Regions from separate parts of the Homo sapiens genome. Here regions 1 and 3 are each linked to region 2. The links come from fine-mapping of genetic effects on gene expression. A gene starts in region 2. Each other region holds a variant in brackets. All regions are shown on one strand. Distances are from middle to middle. Region 1 has its middle 19 kb from the start of LINC00899. Region 2 holds the start of LINC00899 (long intergenic non-protein coding RNA 899). Region 3 has its middle 26 kb from the start of WNT7B.

What was found. PIP is the estimated chance that this variant, and not a neighbour inherited with it, causes the effect.
Region 1: its variant is the best candidate, but not a certain one, in a credible set for the expression of LINC00899 in visceral fat (GTEx, PIP 0.80).
Region 3: its variant is the best candidate, but not a certain one, in a credible set for the expression of LINC00899 in cerebellar hemisphere (GTEx, PIP 0.76).

Annotation. Positions count from the first base shown.
Region 1 is chr22:46,022,013-46,029,972 of GRCh38, forward strand. No RefSeq gene overlaps it. Among named protein-coding and RNA genes, the nearest start is that of LINC00899, 19 kb to the right of the region's middle. RefSeq lists an enhancer at 6,748-7,301. The variant T/G (reference allele first, on the strand shown) is at 3,253.
Region 2 is chr22:46,040,466-46,048,425 of GRCh38, forward strand. LINC00899 (long intergenic non-protein coding RNA 899) reads right to left here and starts at 4,403. Exons shown (of 4, transcript NR_027036.1): 1 at 4,144-4,403; 2 at 3,098-3,234; 3 at 2,109-2,175; 4 at 1-587. LOC124905135 (collagen alpha-1(III) chain-like) reads left to right here and starts at 4,179. Exons shown (of 2, transcript XM_047441696.1): 1 at 4,179-4,542.
Region 3 is chr22:45,998,958-46,006,917 of GRCh38, forward strand. It overlaps the pseudogene LOC730668. Among named protein-coding and RNA genes, the nearest start is that of WNT7B, 26 kb to the left of the region's middle. RefSeq lists enhancers at 2,077-2,246, 7,320-7,960. The variant C/T (reference allele first, on the strand shown) is at 3,911.

The DNA.
Region 1 (7,960 bases), 18 kb before region 2:
GTTCTGAGATATATTTCATGAGATCCCCCAGAAACCCCCGTCAGGAGCAGGTATGAGCCTCCTGCAGCTGTGACTGACTCAGTGAAACGTCCTTGTATTGGTTTTCCCAGGAATCTCATTTCCAGCTGAAATGTCTGCAGACAAGTCTTTGTCTCAAGCTTTGCTTCCAAGGAAACCAGACTATGGTACGCGCCATTGTGGAAAGACAGAGTACAAAAAAATGAACTCACAAATTTAAATTAACTATAATAAGTGTTATGGAGAAATAATACAGGGTGATGTAATGGGAGTATAACTGTGAATCTGTGCCATCTAATATGGTAGCCACTAGCCACGTGTTAGTATTTAAATATAAATGCAGGCTGGGCGCGGGGCAGTGGCTCACACCTGTAATCCCAACAGTTTGGGAGGCCAAGGTAGGTGAATCATTTGAGGTCAGGAGTTCAAGACCAGCCTGGCCAACATGGTGAAACCCCATCTCTACTAAAAATAAAAAAATTAGCTGGGTGGTGGTGACGCGCACCTGTAATCCCAGCCACTTGGGAGGTTGAGGCAGGAGAATCACTTGAGCCTGGGAGGCGGAGGTTGCGGTGAGCCAAGATCACACCACTGCACTCCAGTCTGGGCAACAGAGTGAGACCCTGTCTCAAAAATAAATAAATATAAATGCAAATTAATTAAAATTAAATGAAATTTAAAATTCAGCTCCTGGGTCACACGAGCCACATTTCAAGTATTTAACAGTCCCATGCATTTAGTAGCTGTCTCACTAGAAAGTCCAGATATGGAACATTTCAAGCACACAGAAATGTCTGTTGGACAGTACTGCTCTGATTTAGCCAATGCCTGCTGCTTTGTACTAGATTGTAAGCACAGAATAACAGAGTCGATATCTGTCTAATTTTACTTTCTGTCTCTAGAAAGTAGCACAGACACCAGCACAGAAGCAGACAGTAATCAAGTTTACAGAAAGAAGGCAGGAAGGGAGAGAGAGAGAGACAGGAGAGATGAAGAAGGAGGAGAAGAAAGGAGGAAGGGAAGGAAGGAGGAAAAGGAGGGGAAGGGAAGGGAAGAGAAGGGAAGGGAAGGGAAGAAAGGAAGGAAGAAAAGGAGGGAGAGAGGGAGGGAATAAGGCAGAAAGGAAGCCCCCAGCCCATCCACATGGAGCAGTTTGCAGTTTGGGACCTCAGGCCTGGCGAACAGAAGTACAGAGCACAGGTCAAAACAGCCTGGGTGTGGAGGGAGGGAGACTCCAGGATGCTAGCGTTTACTAAGCACTTACTATGTGCCCGGCACCGTCCTAATTCCTAATTCCCTGCAGTTTCCACATTACACCCTACGATTGTTATCCGATTTCACACAGAAGGAAACTGAGGCTGGAGAGGTGAAACAGCTTGTCTAGGCACACGGGACCATGAGTAGCAAGCCAGGGTCAAGCCAGGCAGGCGGCTCCAGGGCTGGTTCCTTCCCCTCGCACCACTGAGGTCAAAGGTGGGAGGATGCCGTGAAACAGAGGCCGAGTGTCCACACTCCCTTCCTTCTCTCCTGGGCCCGGAAACCTCTAAGACTTTGCCAATACCCTCTGGTCAGCCCCCACCAGCCCTGGCAGCTGCCCACTGAGCCAGCCCCTCTGCCCAAGGCCCCTCCCTGGGGCGATGGCAGCCAAGGGGGCAAGTCACATGGCTGCCAGCTGGAGCCCAGGCGGCCGATCCACACAGGAGCCCTGTCCGTGATGTCAGCACCACCAAAGCATCCTCATTAACCGCCCCCTGGGTGACGCAGCCCAGCTTTTCTGCGTGGGATGGGTGGGGGACTCACTGAGACCCAGGTGTTCGCAAGAAGCCAGGATGGAAAGTATGACTCGCTCCTTCCCAAACATGGGATGGCTTTTCCATTGCTAATATCCGAGGAATCCGGTGAAGTAGTGGAAAGACCGAGAAGGCGGGAGACTGGTTCTCACCCTGGCCCATCCTGGCTTTAGACCAGAAGCCCAGAGCCTCAGTCTCCCCTTCTGTCCACCAGAAACCACAGCCCTGTCCAGCTCCGACTCTCCAAGGTGCCCAGGTGTCAGTGAGGCTGACAACACAGCAGTCACCTCGGGGCTGCAGCCTTTTAAGCTTTTGTTTGTTTTCCAAGCATGTCTTTGGGAGTGAAGATCCATCAATCATGACATAAATTTCATTTCAGAAGTTATATTTTACTAGTAGGAGTACAAAGGACTCAAGAATTCAGAACTGGATCTCCCTCCCAGACACCCTCAGGATGTCCCAGCCTTGCCTCTGGAACAGCCAGACTTCCAGCAAAATGAGGACCCGGAAGCTGTGCTGCGGCCACCAGTACTGACTGTGCTTCAGGCTTGCTTGCTCCTCACCCACCCTGGGAGGTTGGTACTGCTGTTATTTCCATTTTACAGCGATTTACCTCCCTGCCAAAATTAGACCAACTCTTCACCATCACTTCCTCTAGGAAGCCATCCCTGACTCCCAAGTCTGAGCCAATTCCCTTCCCAGGTGTCCTCCAGACCCTAGAGTGCACTATGCAGTGTGTCCTGCCACATCAAGGCTTCCTCTCCTCTCCTGGTTTTGCCCACTCTGAGAGCAGCAGACCTGGCAGGTAGGGCCCAGCCGCCACTCAGCCAGCCCCTGATAGGTGCACCCCATATTCCTCCTGCCCTGATGTTAGGGGGCCATGGTGAGGACCTGATGCCATGCAGCTCACAGGCCTCCAGCTTTTGGGGCCAGAATCAACCTGCCCATCTCTTGTGCAACCAGCTTCTCCTTAAAGGCACTCAAATCTTGGGACTGAGAAATTAGTGGCCTCCCAACCTGCGACTCCTCAGGAGTTCAAGGCAGGCTTTTTTTTTTTTTTTTTTTTCTTTTAACTCAACTCACCCTCTTCCCCCGTTTCATTTTCCCACCCTGACATTTCCTTTAGCTGGACCAACTTCTATATTTTATTTTAATGTTGGTGTTTCTAGTCCTGCTGGCTACCCATGAGGCAGAATGTCTGTAAATGCAAAGAAATAGGACAATTTGCCCAAGGAAAGGATTTCTTTAAAGTGAATTCTGAGTGTCCTTCCTCTTTCAGAATGTTCCTTCTCCCTAAGTGCTCCCTCCTCTGGAATGCTCCCTCTCCCTGGAGTGCTCCCTCTCCCTGCAGTGCACCCTGTACCCTCTTGCTCCCTCTGCCTGGAGTGTTCTCTCTCCCTGAGTGCTCCCTCTCTCTGAGTGCTCCGTCTCCCTGAGTGCTCAC[T/G]CTCCCTTGGGTGCTCCCTCTCCCTGAGTGCTCCCTCTCCCTGCAGTGCACCCTGAACCCTCTTGCTCCCTCTCCCTGGTGTGTTCTCTCTCTCTGCGTGCTCCTGCTCCCTGAGTGCACCCTCTCCCTGTAGTGCTCCCTCTCCCTGCAGTGCGCCCTGCACCCTCTTGCTCCCTCTCCCTGGAGTGTTCTCGCTGAGTGCTCCCTCTCCCTGAGTGCTCCCTCTCCCTTGGGTGCTCCCTCTCCCTGAGTGCTCCCTCTCCCTGCAGTGCACGCTGCACCCTCTTGCTCCCTCTCCCTGGATTGTTCTCTCTCTCTGAGTGCTCCTGCTCCCTGAGTGCACCTTCTCCCCATAGTGCTCCCTCTCCCTGCAGTGCACCCTGCACCCTCTTGCTCTCTCTCCCTGGAGTGTTCTCTCTCTCTGAGTGCTCCTGCTTCCTGAGTGCACCCTCTCCCTGCAGTGCTCCTTCTGCCTGGAATGCTCCCTCTGCCTGGAATGCTCCCTCTGCCTGCAACTTTCTGCCCAAAGTGCTCTCCACTCTCTTCTCCTGTTGAGAAGCTGCTCATACTCCTTGAGGCTCAGCTCAGGCGACCGCCTCCCAGGAAGGCTTCCTGGACTCCTCCATCGCCTCCTCTGTTCTCCCATGCACCATGCCCACCCCCTCATGCTTCCTTTCTCACCACATTCACCATCTGTGTCCTTATCTTCCCTCCTCACCTCTCCTGCCTCTAGCCAGGCTCTGAGCTCCCAAATGGCAGACCAGGGTCTCATGCCTTTGGGGAGGCAGGGGTCTGTCCCAGTGCCTAGCCCAAAGGAGGCCTCCGTGAGTCGGCTGCTGAAAGCCAATAATCCCAGGCACCCTGGCTGGGAAGGATCCAGCCCTGTACACCATCCCCATCCTTGAAAGAGTGATCTTATTCATGTATATCTGGAGAAGCTGGAAGGATGCTTAGAGAGCGTCTCTACAACCTCCTCTTTTAGCTCTGGTGAAACTGAGGCCCAGACAGGGAGCATCTTGCCCAAGATCGCCTTCTCTGAACCTCTTCCTCCTGTCCTGAGCCCTTGCCATGACAGAGCTGAGCTCCCCAGCACCTTGGCAGAAATGAACCTGTGTGCACGCTCCCCACCCACACAGGTGTGCGTGTGCGCAGGGACCCTCACAGCCACTGCCTCTGCAAGATGGGCAGGCAGTGCTCACAGACCCCTAATCAGGTGAGGATACCGAGTCTCTGGAGGACAAGTGATGGGTCGCCAGTCAGCTGCGGGGCGGGGACATCAGACTCTGGGTTGTGGCTCTGTCACCTATCACAAATGTGCCCAATCCAAATTTACAGAAGTTGCTGGAATCACCTGGTCAGGCACATGTACATAAAAATCAGCTGCAGCTGCCTACCTGGCACGTGTGCTTTTTCTGTCTTGTCTGTTTAAACCATGTCTGAGCAGGTGGGGAGGGGTGCCGCAGGACACACATGTGGGCCTGGCGCCTTTCTGGGCTCAGTTGAGCACATTGTAGTTTAGCAGCTCTTGGTGAGGTCCCTGTCCTTTCTCTTTGCACATCCACTTACGGCCCCGGAAGACCCTGTTGACAAGCTGTTGTCCCTGTGACCGGGAAACCCAGTGGCAGGGACTGTGGCACAGCACAGAACAGTACCATGCAGTTTTTAAAAGGGACATTGGTAAGAGGTTGATGACAAATGTTATTTTCCAGGAAAAAGTCAAGACGCTGAATTGAAAGTTCACCCTGGGCTGTGAGGAAGAATTTGCCCCAAGGGGAGAGAGGAGGCGAGGGAGTTCCTCTCCACGCAGCAGAGCTCTCCCTGGGTTGGGACAGTCATTGGGGGCAGCCTTTATTTCCTTACTGATCATTTACAGGATCTTTAAAAATCAACCTAATAAAAGAAAAATAAGAAGGGCAGGAAGGAGGGAGAAGCAGTCACCTCCAAGGGCCTAAGATCTTTTGGACCTGGTCGCAAAGGGACTCTCTCTCCAGGAGGGTCGCCAGGGCCGCAGGGTCCGGGACCAGGCCCAGGGTCCAGCTAAGCCCGGGCCAACACGGGGACACATGCGCACACCCGGACACACCCGCACGCACCCGCACACGCACGCGCCCGTGGGCCGCGCCCCGCCGCGCCGGGGGCCCGCATTGACATTCTGCGCAGTTCCCAGCCCGCGGCGCCGCGTGGGGACAGTGGCGCATTGTTCCCCGGACACGCCGGGCGGCGCAGCGCCCTCGGGGCTTGGCGCGGCCCCGCCGCGATTTGCATGCGCTCCAGTCACAAAGGTTCAAGGTCAGGAGCGCCGGGCGGGGCTGGTCTTCGCCCCGGCGGCGGGAATTCCTCGCCGCCCGCGCCCGGGACGCCCCTGCGCGTGAATGGCCGAGCGCCGCCACCGTCTGAGGTGCTTTGTGTCTCGCCCCGGCCAGCTGGGCCCGCGAGGGACGTGCCAGCTCGGCCGGCGGCGTCCCCGCGCCAGCGCCCCTCGCCCATGCTAATCAGCCTGGCAGCGCGTCTGGGCGGGCGGCCCGGCCCGGCCTGGGAGCCCCTCACGTTCCCTGCCGGGAGCCCCCTCCTACCAGGCCCCCTCCCCCAGCTTCCCCTGCCGCCAGGAGACCCCACTTACTCTGCCAGGAGCTCCCCACGACCCTAGCTGCCAGGTGCCTCCACCCGATTCCACCTCCACTCCTCCTGCCAGAAGACCCCCTCTCCGGCTGCCGTGGGTGCCTTCTGCCCAGCCAGAAGGGCGGGTGCACCTTGCAGGAATGGCTGGCTGGGGAGCCTGGGGCGTAGGACCCTTCTGGGACTCTGACAGGACTCTCTGTGGGGCCTGGGGCATCTTCTCTCAGCCTCGATTTCCCCTGAACAATGAGGCAGGTTGCCCTTCATGATCTCCAGAGGCACTTCCAGAGCTGGGGTCTCCCAGCAGGTGCAGGGAAGGTAGTGGTAAAGATGGCATTCCCCCAGCTCCCGCCTGCTCTGCCATTATCCAGCCTGCTGGCCTGGGGACAGTCACCCTGAGCCCTGAGTCTGGGTCACCGTCTCCAGAGATGCCTTGAGGACTAACGGAGCTGAGCATTCCACGTTGGGACCAGCCCTCAGAGTGTTCTGCCCTTATCATCATCCTTCCCACAGTGTAGCCCTGCTCAGGCAATATTATCATCCACCCGCTAGACTGGGAGCTTCGAGTAGGCAAGGACTTCTGAATTCCCACAGCACAGTGGCACCCAGGACGCACTGAATGACCTCACAGTTGGATAGGTGAAGGCCCACCAGTGTGGGTCACTCTGCACGATGGTGGATGGGGACAGGTCACCGCATTTGGCATTTCCAGTACTTGGAAAGAGGCTCAGAGCCTTTCTTGGGAGGTGGGAGCAGGCTTCTCCTGGGAGCTCCCCACTGGGTGTGTGGGCTCCATTGTCCAACAGGAACGTCCCCACCCCCAAGCCTCTGGGGAAGTGAGCAAGTTGTCTTTCTGCAGAAAGGTGTGTGCAGGAACACAGTGCCTGGCCAGGATGCCCATCAGGAGGTCTAGAGACTGGAACTGCAGACCTGGGGCCTCCGGCATGAGGTTGCCAAGGACCCACAACTTCCTGTAGCACTTTCCTCCTGGCACGTGTGAAGTCAGCGGCCCCACCTGATACCAGAGACAGCCCCCAGTGTTGGGGGCATCATGCTCGAGGGTGCGTTTCCCCCAGAGCACAAGAACCTGGGCCCCATAGACAAGCAGCCCCAGCCAGTCTCAGGCCCAAGAAAGAGGGACCAGGTGAGGCGGTGAAATGGGCACCAAAGGAGAGAAGCCAGCCTCAGACAGACCCTCAGACAGCAGAAAATCTAGCCTGGGGGTTCGAGGCCTTTCCCCAGCCCTCTCTCATTTCCCTCCAAACCTTAAATATGAAGTAGACATAATTACATGTACCTCGCTGCTCTAAGAATCACTTAGGGCCAGACGCAGTAGATCTTGCCTGTAATCCCAGCGCTTTGGGAGACTGAGGTGGGCGGATCACTTGAGCTCAGGACTTCCAGACCAGCCTGGGCAACATTAGTGTGATACCTTGTCTCCACAAAATAATAATAATAATAATAATAAGGCCGGGTGCAGTGGCTCATGCCTGTAATCCCAGAACTTTGGGAGGCCAAGACGGGAAGATCACTTGCGGTCAGGATTTTGAGACCAGCCTGGCCATCATGGTGAAACCCCATCTCTACTAAAAACACAAAATTAGCCCAGCGTGGTGGCACACGCCTATAGTCCCAGCTACTGAGGAGGCTGAGGAGGGAGGATTGCTTGGGCCCCAAGAGGTCAAGGCTGCAGTGAGCCATGATCACACCACTGCACTCAGCCTGAACAAGACCCTGTCTCAAAATACAGAATCACTTAGAAGCCTGGATGTTACCCTCCCTACACTGTGTTGCTAGCATCAGTTTCCTATGCGTCCCTAACCCCGTCCCTGCTTAGCTGGCTGGATACCACCCCCAGCTGTTTTCCAGCCACCCCAGCTTTGTCTTGCACATGGTGCTCTCCTGCCCGTGGAATGCCCTCTCAGCCTGCCACTTGCCAATGAGCTCATCCTGCAAGGCTTGGTTCAGATACCACCTCCTCCAGGAAGATGCCCTTGATCCTTTCCTCCTCTCTTTTCCCACCTGCCTAGGTTTTTGATGCCATGATAAGGAATTCGGCTGCAGATCCTAGGGCAATAGGGAGCCACTGCAG
Region 2 (7,960 bases):
CAGGCCAGGGACATGGGGCTGGGCCCTGGACAGGGTGGTGAGGACATCCCGGTTCCCACGAAAAGCAACCGCCTGGCAAGTCTGGAGCAGGCGAAGAGGGAGTGAGGGGGTGTGGCTCGCTCCCCAAGTTCTTTGGCTCAGCTTCAGTGCTGGGTCATTCTTGGGGACTGCTATGCCCACTGGGCACTGCAGAACTTCTGGTGCGTGTGGCTAAGGGGAGTCGGGAAGAGCCCTGTCCCTGGACCAGACCTTCCTGTTGGGAGTACTGGGACCCAGTGACCTTGTGCACCTTTCCTGAAGCTTCTGGGCCCCAAGTGGTCGAATGCAGAGTGGGCTGGGGAGTCACAGACTGTGCTTCCTGCTTTCAACCTCCGTTCCAGGTTCCTGTGCGTTCCGTGGGCCCATCCACCTGGCTGGGCTTGGCTAGGCTGTGACCTTCTCTGAGGACAGGGCTCTGCCTGCATTTGGAGCTGCTGGGACCTCAGTGTCACCCCCCACTCTCGCCAGCTGGCCTCACAAAGGTGCCCAGGAGGAGACCTGATTGCCGACTCCTTTCCCCTCCCTGGCTGAGCAGATTCTACAACAGCCTGTGGAAATTAAAATAAGAGCTTAAAACTGTCAAAAAAATTTTTTTTAACCAAGTCACAAATGGGAAAGCTGAGGCGGCAGCAGGTTAAGGACACTTTGTGATGTAGCGTTCTCTCCCAGTGCTTTCGTACTGTAAACATCACAGTCCACGGTCCCTGTGAACAGGCAGCCACAGAGACTGGGTTTAGACTTGCCGGGGAAGGCTGCATCCAAAGTGGGGCCAGCTCAGAACTATTCCACCACATGGGGGGCCATTAGTTCTGCTCAGTTCTGTGGGGCCTCACTAGTGTTTCTATTTAAAAATAAGTCAAGGTAAAAGAAAAAGTTTCAAAATGTAACAGTCACGTATCTATTTCTGTAATTGTAAAGAAATACACTGTCATGTGACGGCTGGAGGCTCTGGAGCAGAGGGCCTAGGAGGAATTTTTTTTCTTTTTCTTTTTCTTTCCTGAATTCTCCAAACCGTCTATCACAGTGTGTATTGCTTTTATAACGGGAAGAGATAAAATAGACTTACATTAAAAATAATCAAACTGCACCTGTGCCTACATGTCAAATGATAAACGTGACAATCAAAGGCACTTTTTATTTATCGAATACCTGGTTCATGCCACATCTCCTGCTAGGCCCTCCCAGCGTGCTGGCTCCTCAGAACACCCTGCAGGTGGGAGCTGGGCACCAGGGTCCCTGAGGCAGCATTCAGCACCCACGTGGCAGAGCCAAGGCTGGACAGGGATGATTCCAACATCCAGGATTGTATTATGCTTATAACGACTTCCTGCCTGTTTGTATTTAAGACAAGGTCTCTCACTGCAGCTTTGACCTCCCGGGCTTGAGCAGTCTTCCCACCTCAGCCTCTGGAGTAGCTGGGAGTTACAGGTGCACACCCCCATGCTTGGCTAATTTTTGTATATTTTGCATAGACAGGGTTTCGCCGTGTTGCCCAGGCTGGTCTGGAATTCCTGGGCTCGTGCGATCCACCAGCCTCGGCCTCCCAAAGTGCTGGGATTACAGGCGTGAGCCACAACGCCCAGCCCCTGTCTCTTAAAGGTGAACATTTTCCCTAAATACAATGATCTTCAGTTAAAATATTTGTATCTTACATAGAATCTGGAATTATTTCTGTAAACAGAATTTAGTAAAAGAAATATAAAAATCAGCTGGGCACGTTGGCTCACGCCTGTAATCCCAGCACTTTGGGAGGCCGAGGTGGGCGGATCACAAGTTCAGGAGATCGAGACCACCACCCTGGCCAACATGGTGAAATCCCGTCTCTACTAAAAATACAAAAATTAGCTGGGCATGATGGTGCGCACCTGTAGTCCCAGCTACTCAGGAGGCTGAGGCAGGAGAATCGCTTGAACTCGGGAGGCGGAGGTTGCAGTGAGCCAAGATCGCACCACTGCGCCACTGCACTCCACCCTGGTGACAGAGCAAGACTGTGTCTCAAAAAAAAAAAAAAAAAAAAAAAGGAAAAAGAAAGAAAGAAAAAAAGAAATATAAAAATCATAGATTTTTACCTTATTTTACCTTATGACACTGTTGACCAACAGCCAAAGTCAGAATCAATTATGTAACTCTCAGAGCCTAGAACAAAATGAAAATATGGGTTCCCTTGTTCAAGAATGACTAAGAATTTTAAGACCGGGGACAGCCAAACATTGAGTGTGGGGCCCTTCTGCACACCGGCCCTCTACCACTGGGCAAGCCACACAGCCACAAAGTCAGCCCTGGACAAGTTATTGATAGTGTATGATAGAACTAAGGTGACGGTTCCCTTTGGGACACACTCTAATCACCAGTGACCACCAGTCAGAAAACAAATGGGCTCAAGCCGCAGGAAGATGAGCCGTTCCCAAGGCATTTTCCAATCCAAAAAATAGCGGTCGCAGCTCAGGAATGAAGTTCCCAGTGAGGATGCAGCGGGAGACACAGCCAGCCTTCCCTCCCCAGGAAAGGGCCAGGCCCTGCATAGGAGCTTTCATTAAAAACCAGGGAGGCTGCAGATTCTCTTGAAATGACAACACGCTCGTGCCACACCTCGATAGAGCTTCAGTCACTCTGCTGTGGAGCGTGCGAGGCTGACCATCCTAGGCCTTGGGGAGAAATCATGACAGCTGATGCCAGTGCTTGTTACTGGGAAAACACAGTAAGAAACTTCATCCCTAAATGTTTATACCTACTATGTACTCACAAAAATTTAAAAAAAGATTTAGTATGAAAATGTAAAGTATCTCATTAATCTTTATCTTGATCGTATGTTGAACTGATAATATTTTGGATATATTGGTTTAAATAAAATATATTAACTAAAAAAAAAAAAAAGGAAAACTTCATCCCGCCGCCTCTGAGAAAGGATCTTGGGGTTCATTGGCAGGTAAATGCTCCCCCAAAGGAGGTCCACTGTGGATGCTGGAAACGAACTGTCAGCTGACAAGCATCTGTAGCTCTGAAAACAAGGGCTCCACACATTGTCCCAGCCAGCGCCCCACCAGCCCATCCCCATTACCTCTATGTCTTCAGCCCCACGTCAGGTTCTGGAAGTTTCCAGGGGGAGTGGACAGTACCCTCAGGGGCTCTTGGGGCTGAGACCTCTTCCATGAATCACGTATGGAAGCCCAGGACCAACCTCAGAGAGGATCATGTCTGAGAAGTCGTTTGAGGGGAAAAATATCCACTTAAGAGAGAGGTTCTCCAGCCCTTTGGAGCATCACACACGTTTGTGGGACAAAAGACAAATATTCCTCCCACCCCAATCCCCAACCAGGCTCCTTGTTCATTTTTCTTTAAAAAACAACAACAAAAAAAAAATCCGCATTCTCCCCAGCCTGAAATAGTGCTCTGGAGGAGCTGGCCTGGCCCGGAGTGTCTTCTCCGTAAACACACCTGGTGAGGAAGAACAGGAAGGACGGACAAAGGGAGGCCTCAGGCCCAGCTGGCAGCCAGATCTGTGCCTCCCAGCGCCTCCAGGGCCCTTGCAGTCTCGAGAGATGTGGCTTGGCCACTTTTGCAGATTCCCAGGCCTGGGGCCACTCAGTTGCCTCCCCCAGCCCAGGTGTCTCCTCGGGACCCTTGCCTGGGAGGGTTTGAAGCCAGGCAGGGAAAAGAGGGCAGAAAATGGTGGTGCCGGGGAGCTGGGCCGGGCCAGCAAATCATTCCGCAAGGTGGAGAACTGCAGGCTGAGGGCACCGTGGGCCTGGGCCCGGGACCCAGCATGGAACCCCTTCTCCTGGAGCACCAGGGGTCACAACAGTCCCTCCACTCCAGGGATCACGGGTGACCCACGGCCGGGTGCTTTGGGGACGAGACAAAGACAGCGTGTTCCTCAAGCCCCTGCCTACCGCTCCGTCACTGGGGCCATGGTCTGCGTGCCAACAACCTTTTAGGAAGCATCTTGTGCCCAACCTCACCACCCCGCAAAAAAACCTGTGTCCAAAACACTTGGCAGTGGGGCTTAAAACGCTCAGGTGCCCCGAGGAGGCGCCGGGAGATGAGCCCAGAGCGGTGGCTGGCGAAGGCCCCAGCAGGACTGGGGCGTGGAACTTGCTTGTTTACCTAAGAGAAAAACACGACGAAAAAAGCTTCTGGGTAGAATTGGAAGTTCTGGGGCTCTCGGCGCCGCGGCCTCCGCGCGGTTCTCTTCCTCCCCTCCCCGGCCTGCTTTTCCTCCTTCTTTCCCTCTTTGTTGCCAACCTCGGAGCCGCGACTGAAACCCAGCCCAGCGTGTCCGCGAAGCCCGGAAACTTCCAGCTCCGCGACTGTGCAGAAAGTTGGGGGGCGCGGCCGGGGTGACAGCAGCGCTTCGGGGGCGGCCGCGGCGGCCACCCGGACCTCGGCCTCCCGCGCCTCCCGCTGCCCCAGCCGCGCCCGGGGACCTCGGGCAGCCCGCGGGCCGGACGTGAACTTGACCCTGCGCTGTGCCCGCCTGGACCGCGGCGCGCTCGGGACGATCTGGTAAGCGCTCCCCCTCCCGCCCTCGCCCGGCGGCGCTGGGGTCCGGGTCGGGGTCCGGGCTCGACTGCGAGGGCGTGTCCCGGGGTGGCGGGCGCCGGGGCTCCTCGGCCGCTGCACCGGAGCGCACGGCCGAGCCCGCGGCCCGGCCCCCGGCGAAGTCAGCCCCCAGCCTCCCAAACAAAGACTCGCAAAGTTCGGAAGAGAATCTTTCCCGACATTTTCCCTCCCCTCGGGCTCTGCGCTGCGGCCATCAGGGCTCTTAAAAGAGAACCGAGAGCTCTCTGGTTTTCTCCTGGTGTTTTCTTCCCTGCGCTTTGCCCCCCACCTTTGGCTGGAGGGAAGGAGGAGGGGGCATGGATGCCCCTCGGGCCCTCAGGTGTTGACCCTCCGAGGCCAGGCTGCCCAGGGGCAGCACAGGAGGTGAGGGCCTGTGGGATGAGGGACCCCCGACAGCACAAGGAGGCAAGCCCCTCGCCGCTGCAATGCTCCGGTCCTGGGGCTCAGGTGGAAGTTGCTCCTGATCCCCCCACACCCCCAGCACCATCCTGAGTGACTTCCCTTGACCGTCCTGGGTGACCATCCTGAGCAAGACTCCCTGGCCACCAACTGTCCTGTCGGCTCTGCTTGGGGCAACCACAGTGCCAAGTGAGCCTGGCAGGTGCTGGGTCACAGGACAGCCATGGACAGGGCCTGGGGAGGAGGAGAAGCTGGGGCCCTGTAGAGCCTGTTCCTTGGGGAGCAGGTGAGGGACCCTGCTGCCTCCCCTATTCCTGTCTGCAACAGGCCCAGCCCATACCTCCAGCTAGCTTCTCTGCATGCCACTCTCTCCGCCTGAGACAAGGCCTCTGTCCCTGTGACTGGTCTGATCCCTGGGGGGCACTCCTGGGATAGAAACCTACCCCACCAGTCGGCGGTGGCAAAGCCCTGGAAACTCACAGACCTGTCCTGGGCCTGGGCCTCCACAAGCCTCCCAGTTTGATCAGGTGCCCCCAACCACAGCAGGGACCATCTGTCAGGTCTTACTCCCAGTGGTGGCCAGGTCCCCAGCCTTCCAGAGAGCATTGCTAACTTGCCTCCATCCCTGGGTGCCTACGCTCCCAAAGTCCTCCTCAGGGGAGCACCCAAGCCGAGAGGGCTGGCCAGCCAGAATCTGAGTGGGTCACCCCACCATGTCCCTGGACTCTCTGGCAGGGCTGTCACAGGGCAGCCTACAGGCGTCAGTTGGAGCACAGAGGGTGTTTGCAGTGACGGCAGGGGACAGAGTGCCCAGTTGGCTCTAGCCTGTTGCTGCCATGAGGATAAGGGCTGAGGCTGTTAGAGCTTCTGACTTCAGAAGAAATCCAGATTTGTACATGAAATGTCCAAAATTTGAGCACATTGCAGGACAGAGGAAACACTCTGGGGTTGAACCCAACCCATGCCCCCACCCCGAGACTGCAACTCCTGTGTACGCCTGAACTGGTTAGTGTTCAAAGAAAGCAGATTTCTTAGTGACCCTGGCCCCAGCCCAAGATTTGAGCAGGAGACCCCGGGGATCTGGGGAGCAGGGAGGCAGGAGAGTCTGTATCTCATGGACCCAGCACCACAGGGAGGGTCGGCCTCCACAGGCATGAACTGTCCAGGTAATTAACACTTGCTCGAGCCCACTTAAAGTTAAAATCTCCCTAAAATGAGGAACCTGACCTGCCCCATCCCCAAACCCTCTGGGGGACCTTCTATACCCGCCCAGGGTATAATGAAGGAAAGATAGGATGCAGAAAGTGAACCTGAACTTGAACTTTCTTCATGTCCCAGGCAGTAGAGTCGCAGCATACCAAAAATCCTGGGCTTATAGGGAAGTTCTGCATTGAGGCAGGCCTGCCTCCACCTGCCAGCGCTACCTCATTCTAGCTGGGTAACCTCACCTCTCTGGGCCTCAGTTTCCTCACTCATAAAAGGGGCTTAATAAGAGTTCTGCCAGACAGGTGTGGTAGCTCACACCTGTAATCCCAGCACTTTGCGAGGCCGAGGCAGACAGATCATGAGGTCAGGAGTTCCAGACCAGCCTGGCCAACACGATGAAACCCTGTCTCTACTAAAAATACAAAAATTAGCTAGGTGTGGTGGCACACAGCTGTAGTCCCAGCTACTCAGGAGGCTGAGGCAGGAGAATTGCTTGAACCCGGGAGGCGGAGGTTGCAGTAAGCCGAGATTGCGCCACTGCACTCCAGCCTGGGTGACAGAGCGAGACTCTGTCTCAAAAAAACAAACAAACAAACAAACAAACAAAACAAACAAAAAGAGTTCTGTATCAGTTGCGTTGTTGGGAGAACGGTGACAATCGCTGTGAACATCGATCACTCCGCTAGCACACGGCAGGCACTCAGTATCAGCGGCTGCTGCTCCAGGGGCCCGTGGCTGCTGGCTTCTCTCGCACATCACCTGCTTCTGGGCAGCTCAGGAATTTCTCTCCTACATCTCATGTCAACTTTGCATCGCTTACCTCACCACCTTCTGGCACTTGTTTCCGTACCCTAAAGGAAACAGTCACTGAACACCTCCCCCACACCTATACTCCTGTATGGAGTACTGGGCACAGAGAGAAAAGACGACAAGGTCCTGCCTTAGAAGCTGCCAGATACCCTGTGCAGTGACACCCTCAGGTGAGCTTCTCTAGGCTAATGCCAGAGAAGGTGTTTCCTGTGCAGCCTTTGTTGAATGCCTCCAGAGACAGGCAGCTCACCACCTATCTGGCAGTGTGGCTGCAGAAGCCGTAGGACAGAGTCACCCAGGCATCCTTGAGCCTTAACTGGTAGAAAGAGATGTAGGACAGGTCCATAGGCAGTGCCCCTGAGTCAGAGGCACCTGGTTTTACTGGAGAAAACACATACCTCATAAGAAACTTCTGAAAATTTGGTGAGGTGTACAGAAAGATTTCAGTCTCCAGAAAAAGCACTGCAAATGCTCACGCATGTTTTTACAGAACAGAGCCCTGTTTCCTCTTTTTGCCAACAGCCCATTTAGCAATGCCAGGGCTGTGCCAGTGACCCCACCCACCTCCTAACAAGGCAGCCACTGTCCCGGGGGACAGCCAATATATGCTTTGATTTTTTGAGGTTAATGTCCTTGGGCCCCTGATTTTGGAAACCCTGGACAAAATATAAGGAGTCACTGCATGGGAAATAAACCTACCCCAGAAAGCTGGCTGCGGCATTCAGGAAACTGGAGAGAAAAGTCAAGGTGTCCGGAGGCCCAGGGTTCCTCGCCAGGATCGGCTATAGAGTTTGCAGGGCCCAGGGTAAGAAGAAAATGTGGCCCCCTGGTTTGAAAATGCCTGAGAATTACAAGGTGGTGACGATGGTGTGAATTAAAACGAGCTTGGGGCCCTTCCGAATGCAGGGCCTTCCTAAGCTCAGGGCCCTGTGCGGTGGTATGGGTC
Region 3 (7,960 bases), 42 kb before region 2:
GGGGAGAAAGTCACATCCCTTCACCAGGCAAGGACAGCCAAGCCCACTGCCAGAGGAGTCATTGGGTTCAAGTAAATAATCAAATTGGAACTGTGTGTTCAATGTAAGCATCAGAGAGCCTGCTGTGCACCCTCCCCCCCATAACCTTCTGTGGCTCCCTGTCGCCTCCCTGAAGGCCTTGCTCTTCAGCACAGCACACTTGAGCCTCTGGGTCTTATTTCTCCCCTGTTCCCCCTCCTCAGGCACATGGGAGCCATGCCTCGTGCCTTTGTCATGTGGGCCCCTCTGCCCGATCGGCACAGGCTCACAGGGCCAGGTTCAAAGGACCTTCTAGACTCTTTGGCTTCAGAGGGGCTGTCCACACACCTGGCCAAACTGCTCCTCACAGCCACCTTTCCATCTGCTCTCCCCTGCCTTCCTTGCCCTGGCTAACCCTACTCAGCCCTCAGGTCTCACCACCTCCTCCGGGCAGCCTCTCCTGACAGCCTCCACCAGCCCCCAGACTCCCACAGCCCCCAGACTCCCGCAGAGGCCTGAGGTGCCATCTAGGGGCATTGTCCAATGACAGGGGACAGCTCAGAGGTGGGGGGATGTTCTGTATGCACTCCCTGCCTGCTGAGCTCAGGAGCCTGGGGGCCAGGCAGTTGGAGAAGCAGACAAGCAAATCAACAGCAGAAATAGAAATGACACTGACAGCTACCACCTGGCACCTGCCTTAGAAAATGCATTGAGCACAAAGGAAACAGACGTGCAGGCGGCCAGGCGACATTGACACTGCGTGGAGTAGGGGACAGGGATTCAAAGCCCAGGCTCCGGTGGGCGCGTCCCAGGCACCTGCTGCCGCGCTTCCCAGAGAGTGAAATTCGCCACTGTGGGGTGGGGGCATCTTAAGGGTTGTAGAAACCAAGGAGCTCAAAGGAAGGAGCCAGGGGTCGCCTTGTCCAGAAGGGATTTGGGGGTGCAGCAAAGATGCCGCAGAACATCAGAACATGTATTTAAAAGTAGAGGTGAAAGACCAAGGGAACGGGGAGAGAAGGTAGGTCTAAGTGGAGGCAGAGATAGGCCCACGGCTTTGGCTCCAAGCTTCCCAGTGGCAGAGGCAAAAAGGGAAAGGGGCAGTTTACACAAATTACTATTCTATGGGTACAATTAAAAGGCACCACATCCTACTCCTGATGCTTCCCTTCCATGGCGGACTGGGGATGGCACAGGAAAAGAGCGTGTGGAATTCCTTCCCATCCTGTACATGTTCGGAGCATTGCACTCTCCCGGGCTCTGGGGCTTCCAGGTGAAACAGCCCCTACCTGCCAGGCCCTCAGCCCGTACCTGTGACAGCCCCCTGCTTCGTCCTCACAACAGCCTGGGCACTTGAGGTTGGGGTCTCAGCTGTCACTCTTCCAACCCTATAAATGAGGAGGTGGAAGGAAAGAAGCCAGCACTTCATGAGGACATGGTGGTCTGTCTGCCCATGATGCAGACGCCGGCTTTGTGCAGGGACCCCATTCCTCAGCCCCACATGTGTGCACCTCTTTGGCCGGACCTGTCCTCCCATCCAGGTGCCTCCCAGATGAGGGGCCTGTGCTGAGGGACTTGGTTTTGTGTCTAGTGGCTGCTCCTAGCACCCTCACCTCTGTCCTCACCCAACCACTGGCCAGCTGGGCTCCTGCCTCCCTGCAGGTAGGGCAGGTGCGGAGGGAGCACAGCCCTGAGCATCCAGTCTTTTCAGTCTGGCCAACCCCCAACCCAGTGGCTCTGAAGGTGCCTGGAGAACCAACAGCTCAGGACCCCGCTGGGCAGACCAGGCCTCTCACGTGGCTGTAAGAGAAAGTTCCTCCACCCCACCCTACCCCTCGATGTCTCCTGCCCCTTCCACCCTGGGCAGATGATGGCTCCATACAGGCCAAGCCTGGATGCAGGTGGATCCAGGCCAAGGACACGGGGGTCCCCTGGAGTGAGCACAGATGGTGGCATTCGTTTGACCTGCTGTGGCCTCTAGAGCCCCGAGCCACGTGGGCCAGAAGGTGCAAGAGTGTTCAGGGGAGACCAGGGAAGCCTTGGGGCTTCTCCAGTTACCCCAAAACATAGACACTGACAACAGCCACTTTCTTATGCTCCATGGGTCATAGTGGGAGTGCCTGGTTTCTGTTCCCCCCAGTGGGGGCCTCAGCTAGAGGGAGCTCCAGGGCTGGGCCAGAATCAAGGTTTCCTCACTTGGTATCATCTGAGCTCCACCAGCCAGCACCCCTGGAGAGCCAGGCAGATGCAGGGGCTTTCCCAGCCCAGCCCAGTGCTCACATGGCACCTCCACCACCCACTCACGGGGTGGTCACAGGCCCAGTTGACCCAGGGGAGAAGCATTAGCACCACCCTGGATGGGGCATGGTGTGGCTCTAGGAGACGCCTTGGATGGGAGATCCAGCCCTTCCACAGCATCCTCCACTCCTGTATCAGGAAATCCGCCCTTTGCCCTGGCAGCTTTGCCTGTCCCTCACTGGAACATGCTCCAGCCACCAGGCTTGCATCTTCAGAGCCCCGCTGCCGCTTTTCTCTATGCCTTCCCAGCCCCTCACTGCACCTGCTCCAGCTGGCCCAGAGGCCGACCCTGTGGGCACGTTTGCCAGCTCCCTGTGCTGGGACCTGTCCGTGGCCTCTGCCGGCGCGAGGCACTGGCAGGAGGCCTAAGGGTCCCTGCCACCAGTGGCTGCAGCTACCTCCCCGTTTGGCCACCAGCCCCAGAGAACGGCTCCTTCCCTCCTAGCTTTTCCTGAGCTGGGCCCACGCCTTTGTCCTGTTTTTAAACGCTCCTCAAGTGGCCCAAATTAAGGGGCCACACTATCTGCTTCCCCCAGGGAGCCAAGAGGGCTGCCAGCTGTCACTCGTGGGACTCCGGCCAAGGGGCCCCTTAAGACTTCCATGGAGAAGAGCTGCTTTGAGACGGTCACTGCCCTCGTGCTGGCTCAGTGGGGACAGGGCTGCAGGGTCTAACTCCAGAAAGACTCGGCCCCAGCAGGGGAGCTGGCGCCAACCAGACAGCTGAATCAACAGCCACCGCCATGGGTCCAGGCCCCCTGCAGCCTGGCGGCCCCACACGCAGGACTGGGGGCTGCTCAAGGCCAAGGGTGGGGCTGTACTCCTCAGTGGTGACGGCAGCAGCCCCCTACCCCCTTGCCCACCCTGGCTCCTGTGTCCCACAGTGAGGTCTCTCCGGTGCACAGCCTGGGTGAGGGGTTGGTGGGTCCAGATGGCACATTCAGACCCTACATCCCCAGCCTAGCAGAGCAGGGGGCGTCAAAGGGGAAGGAGCAGTGGGGGGAGGAACGAGGGGTGGGGGTGTGCTTTGGAAGCCTTGAGAGTTGCCCTGAAGGCTTGAACCGCCCCCAGGGCCAGCAGGAGAGCCATTACCATAACCAGGCAGGGTCCCCTTTTAAGAAAACTGCCCTGGTGGGCTGGTTGCGGTGGCTCACGCCTGTAATCCCAGCACTTTGGGAGGCTGAAGCAGGCAGATCACGAGGTCAGGAGTTCGAGACCAGCCTGACCAGCATGGTGAAACCCCATCTCTACTAAAAGTACAAATAATTAGCCGGGCATGGTGGCGCGTGCTTGTAGTCTCAGCTACTCAGGAGGCTGAGGCAGGAGAATTGCTTGAACCCGGCAGGCGGAGGTTGCAGTGAGCCGAGATCGTGCCACCGCACTTCGGCCTGGGCGAGTGAGACTCCGTCTCAAAAAAAAAAAAAAGAAAAGAAAAAGAAAACTGCCCTGGTGGCCACTGATGGAGAAATGGAGGGACAGAGGCCAGGGAGGGAGACTCTCGCTGGGGCATGGAGGGCTTCCGGGCAACAGTGCAGCCCAAACAGAGTGGGCCTTGGCCAGAGGTGGACAAAGCCAGATGCTGAGGGTGGGGTGGGCACAG[C/T]GAGAGGCAGCCACACTAGCTGCTCCCGCTGGGCCAGGCCTGGTGGATGGTGTCATCCTCCCTCACATTCCTGGATCTCAGGGACACCACTTCCCCAGGCTCAAGCAGCTGAGTCATGAGTGTCCTCCCTTCAGGGGACCCAGCCATTGGCTTGGGTAGATTAGTTCTGATTTAACCCCAAAATAATGACTTAGTGGCTTTCCTAACTGCAGCCAGCTTTGCAGGGCCTCCGAGCTTTCAGGCCACCTCCCCTCCCAGATGCCCTTGAGCTGGACCTGAGAAGACCCGCCCAGAGGAAGGCGAGGAAGACTCCACAGGGGTGACAGGGGCCCAGACACCCCCTATCTGCATCAGGACCCATGTGAGCAGAGCTCACCCTGTTGTCGCCCTGGGCACTGTGGCCATCTGCCAAGGGACAGATAGATGGACCTTCCTAGTCCTCAGGCCTCAGGCCATCCACAGGGTAAACCCACATCCACCCACATCTCCTGGAGCCTCCCCCGCCTGGGAATGGGAGCGAATGACCCCATCACACTGGTCTGATGGATGAGTGAGCAGCACCCAGGAGGCCGGACGCGGGAGGCTTGGCCTGGCCGGCAGGGAGTGGGCGCCCTGGGCTGGGACCGGGTTTCCTGCTCCCCTCTGTCTAGGCTTTTCCTGGGGGACCTGGCCTTGGAGGCCAGCGCCTGAGGGCCCCGCAAGACAGTCAGTCTTGCTGTCACTCCCAATGCCATCTTGTGTCCCCTCTCCCCAGACCCCTCTGCTCTGGGAGACTGGTGAGTGAACACCTCGTGAGGTGCATCCTGTGTGGGCAGGATTCCGACCAAGTGCTCCGACGTGGAAGGAAAGAATGCACACTCAGGCAATCTGGGTGTGACCACCTTGCTGTCCTGCGATCTAGGGGATGAGAGGAGGTGACAAGGCCCAAGGGGGTCATGCCGCAGACATGCCCAGGCCCGGCCTGTGTGGTCAGCTGAGGGTCCTTTAGCTGCCCGTCTACTGTCCTCAGGTAGGATGCCTCGTGCTGGGAGCCAGGCCGCCCAGCACCCTTCCAGCCTCTGCTGACTCCAGCTGTGTGTCGTCGGGCATCTTACTCAACCTCTCTGTTTCTTGTCCTTCTGCGCCTAGGGTCATGATAGACCTTGCTTCCCAGCAAGCATGGAAGAGGCTGCGAAGAACAGCTGGTGCCCAGGAAACTGGGAAGCCCTGGCTAGGTCTCAGTGCTGTGGCTGCTGGTGTTCACACCATGGGCCAATGCTAGGGATTCACAGAGGCAGGGGATGGGGTCCCTGCTCCAGGGTTCTCCCAGTCTGAGGGGCAGACATGTGACTGATGTCAACTCTCCTGGGTGGCCTGGGGTGAGAGAGAGTGACTCATCCCTGGGTGCCTTGGGGACGGTGGCCCTAGGAGGGGACTCCCCTGGCCCTGAAGAGTTGTGTGGCATCCCAGGTAGAGGGGCTGGAGGGGTAAAGCCCACCGCCATGCTCCGAGCACGCTGAGGGCTTGGTGTGAGAGTGTGGTGGATGTGGGTTGGGTGGGCTGCGAGGCCTCCAGCCTCCCACCTGCCTGCCTTTATTGATTTCCAGGGATTCAGGACCTCAGACGCTGGGCCGGTGACAGGCCCCTGGGATTCTGGTCGCAGTCCAAAGGGTCTCTGGCCACCCTGGGCCTGATCAAGTCCTCCCTCTATCTGGATCTATTTCTCCGTCACCAAAAGTTGGCACTTGGGTTTAGTGGCTGACAGCCCTTCTGATTCTAACAGGAAGTGGCTCTGCAGGGTTCCGTCACGCACGCGCTGTGCTGGGGGTCCAGGAGAGGGCTCTAGGAGTCGGACGGTTGGTGGGGGAGGATGGAGTCTGGCTGCAGAGCCCAAGCATGTTTTGTGGGGGCCCGGCGGGTGAAGGGTGTCACAGCGATGGAGGTGCAAGGTGATAGATGAGAGAGGCAGTCCCAGCACAGGAACCCAAGCAGGCAGCACCTGCATGGCATGGCTCTCCCGCCCTCCATTCGCGGGGCGGCCTCCCATCCTCCATTCTGATGGTGACATTGAAAATGAAACGCCAGGACCCCAGCACCTGCATGGTGTGGCCCTTCCGTCCTCCATTCTTTTTTCTTTTACTTTTTTCTTTTTTTTTTTTTTTTTGAGACAGAGTCTTGCCCTGTCGCACAGGTTGGAGTGCAGTGGTGTGATCTCAGCTCACTGCAACCTCCGCCTCCCGAGTTCAAGCGATTCTTCTGCCTCATTCTCCCAAGTAGCTGAGACTACAGGCACCTGCCACCATGCTTGGCTAATTTTTGTGTTTTTAGGAGAGACGGGGTTTCACCATGTTGGCCAGGCTGGCCTCGAACTCCTGACCTCAGGTGATCCGCCTGCCTCGGCCTCCCAAAATGCTGGGATTACAGGCATGAGCCACCACGCCCGGCCTCCATCCACCCTTCTGATGGTGACATTGGAAATGCCAGGACCCCAGGGGTTCAGGTGGCCAACCCAGCTTCCAATCCACCCGTGTAGCCCCATGTGCCATGCCTTGGGTAGGTTGCCAGGGTTCTGAGCCTCTCCCTCCTTGTGTGAAAGCCCCTCTCCTGGATCTGGGCAGAGGGTGTGCACAGCCTCTGGAAGTGGCCTGGCGGGCGTGGGGGCTCAGTGAGCACAGGGCCTGGGCTTGCAGGTGAAGCCCGAGGAGGTGGTATGGCTCCACCTGGCTGCCCTGGGGACCCAAGGTGCGGGCATGGGCACTGGCCCTCTGCCCCAGGAGAACGGCTGCCGGCCTTGACATCTTGGCGCCTCCCCCGCTCCCTCAGCCCTGTCCCCTGCACCTAGGGCCCTGTAGGGGCATCCCAAACTGGCACCTTATTCCCGTGAACTGGGCCCTTCTCTTCAGTTTCCCTCAGTTAGGAAGCCAGGTCCCGTCTTTCTTTCTTTCTTTTTTTTTTTTTTTTTTTGAGACAGTCCAGCTCTGTCGGCCAGGCTGGAGTGCAGTGGCATGATCTCAGCTCACTGCAACCTCCATCTCCTGGGCTCAAGCAATTCTCCTGCCTCAGCCTCCTGAGTAGCTGGGATTACAGGTGTGTGCCACCATGCCCAGCTAAGTTTTGTATTTTTAGTAGAGACAAGGTTTCACCACGTTGGCCAGGCTGGTCAAGAACTCCTGACCTCAGGTAATCCGCCCGCCTCGGCCTCCCAAAGTGCTGGGATTACAGGCGTGAGCCACTGTGCCCGGCCACCAGGTCCCATTTTAGTGACCACCCCCACACCCCGAAGAATAATAAGCCTCGACCTTCCCCACCCACTCCTCCCCTCCTAGAGCCTGAAGCCCCAGGTGGCTGTTGACTGGAGGGGAGGGGAGCACTTTCCACTGGAATATCTGACTTCAAACCTCTCCGGCCCCAGCTTCCTGCAGGCTCTGCCCCCTGAAACTGACAACCCAGCTGTGAAGCGGCAAACATGATCATCCCTCTCTTGTGTGTGGGAGGGGTGAAGATTCAATGAAATATCACAAGTGACACTCTCACCCAGGGCTCCCAGAGAGGGTGGCCCCAGCCCTACGACACCCATGGCCCCAGGGGAGCTCATGACTTTGAGGGTGTCGGTGACCCTGGGGGTGCCCTGGCTCTGGACTGGGCCACCATGTGTCACTGCAGCCACCAGGGGGCAGCAGAGGGGAGCTGTTCTGCTTTCAGGAGCTGGTGCCTGTGCTTCCTGCAAGGAGGGGGGACAAGAAGGCCCCCGGGGTCACTCGAGGCCAGCAGAGGAGTCCAGACTCCGATCCCAGCTCCACTGCTGCCTCCCGCACGCCTGGAGCCAGCCCGGCCCTCATCTGTGCACGCAGGGTGTGCTGCACCCCACCAGGCATCTCCAACTCGGAGATTCAGCTGCAGCCCTGGCCGTCAGACCCACGGGCCCTGAAGTCCAGGGGGCCCTCTCGCCCGCCTCCTGTCTGCAGATGGGGAAATTGAGGCCCAGCCAGGGCAGGGGATTTGCCGACGTTTCGCAACAAATTCGAGTCAGAAATAGGCCCAGCTGGGCCTGCCGGCGCGGAGGCCCGCTCG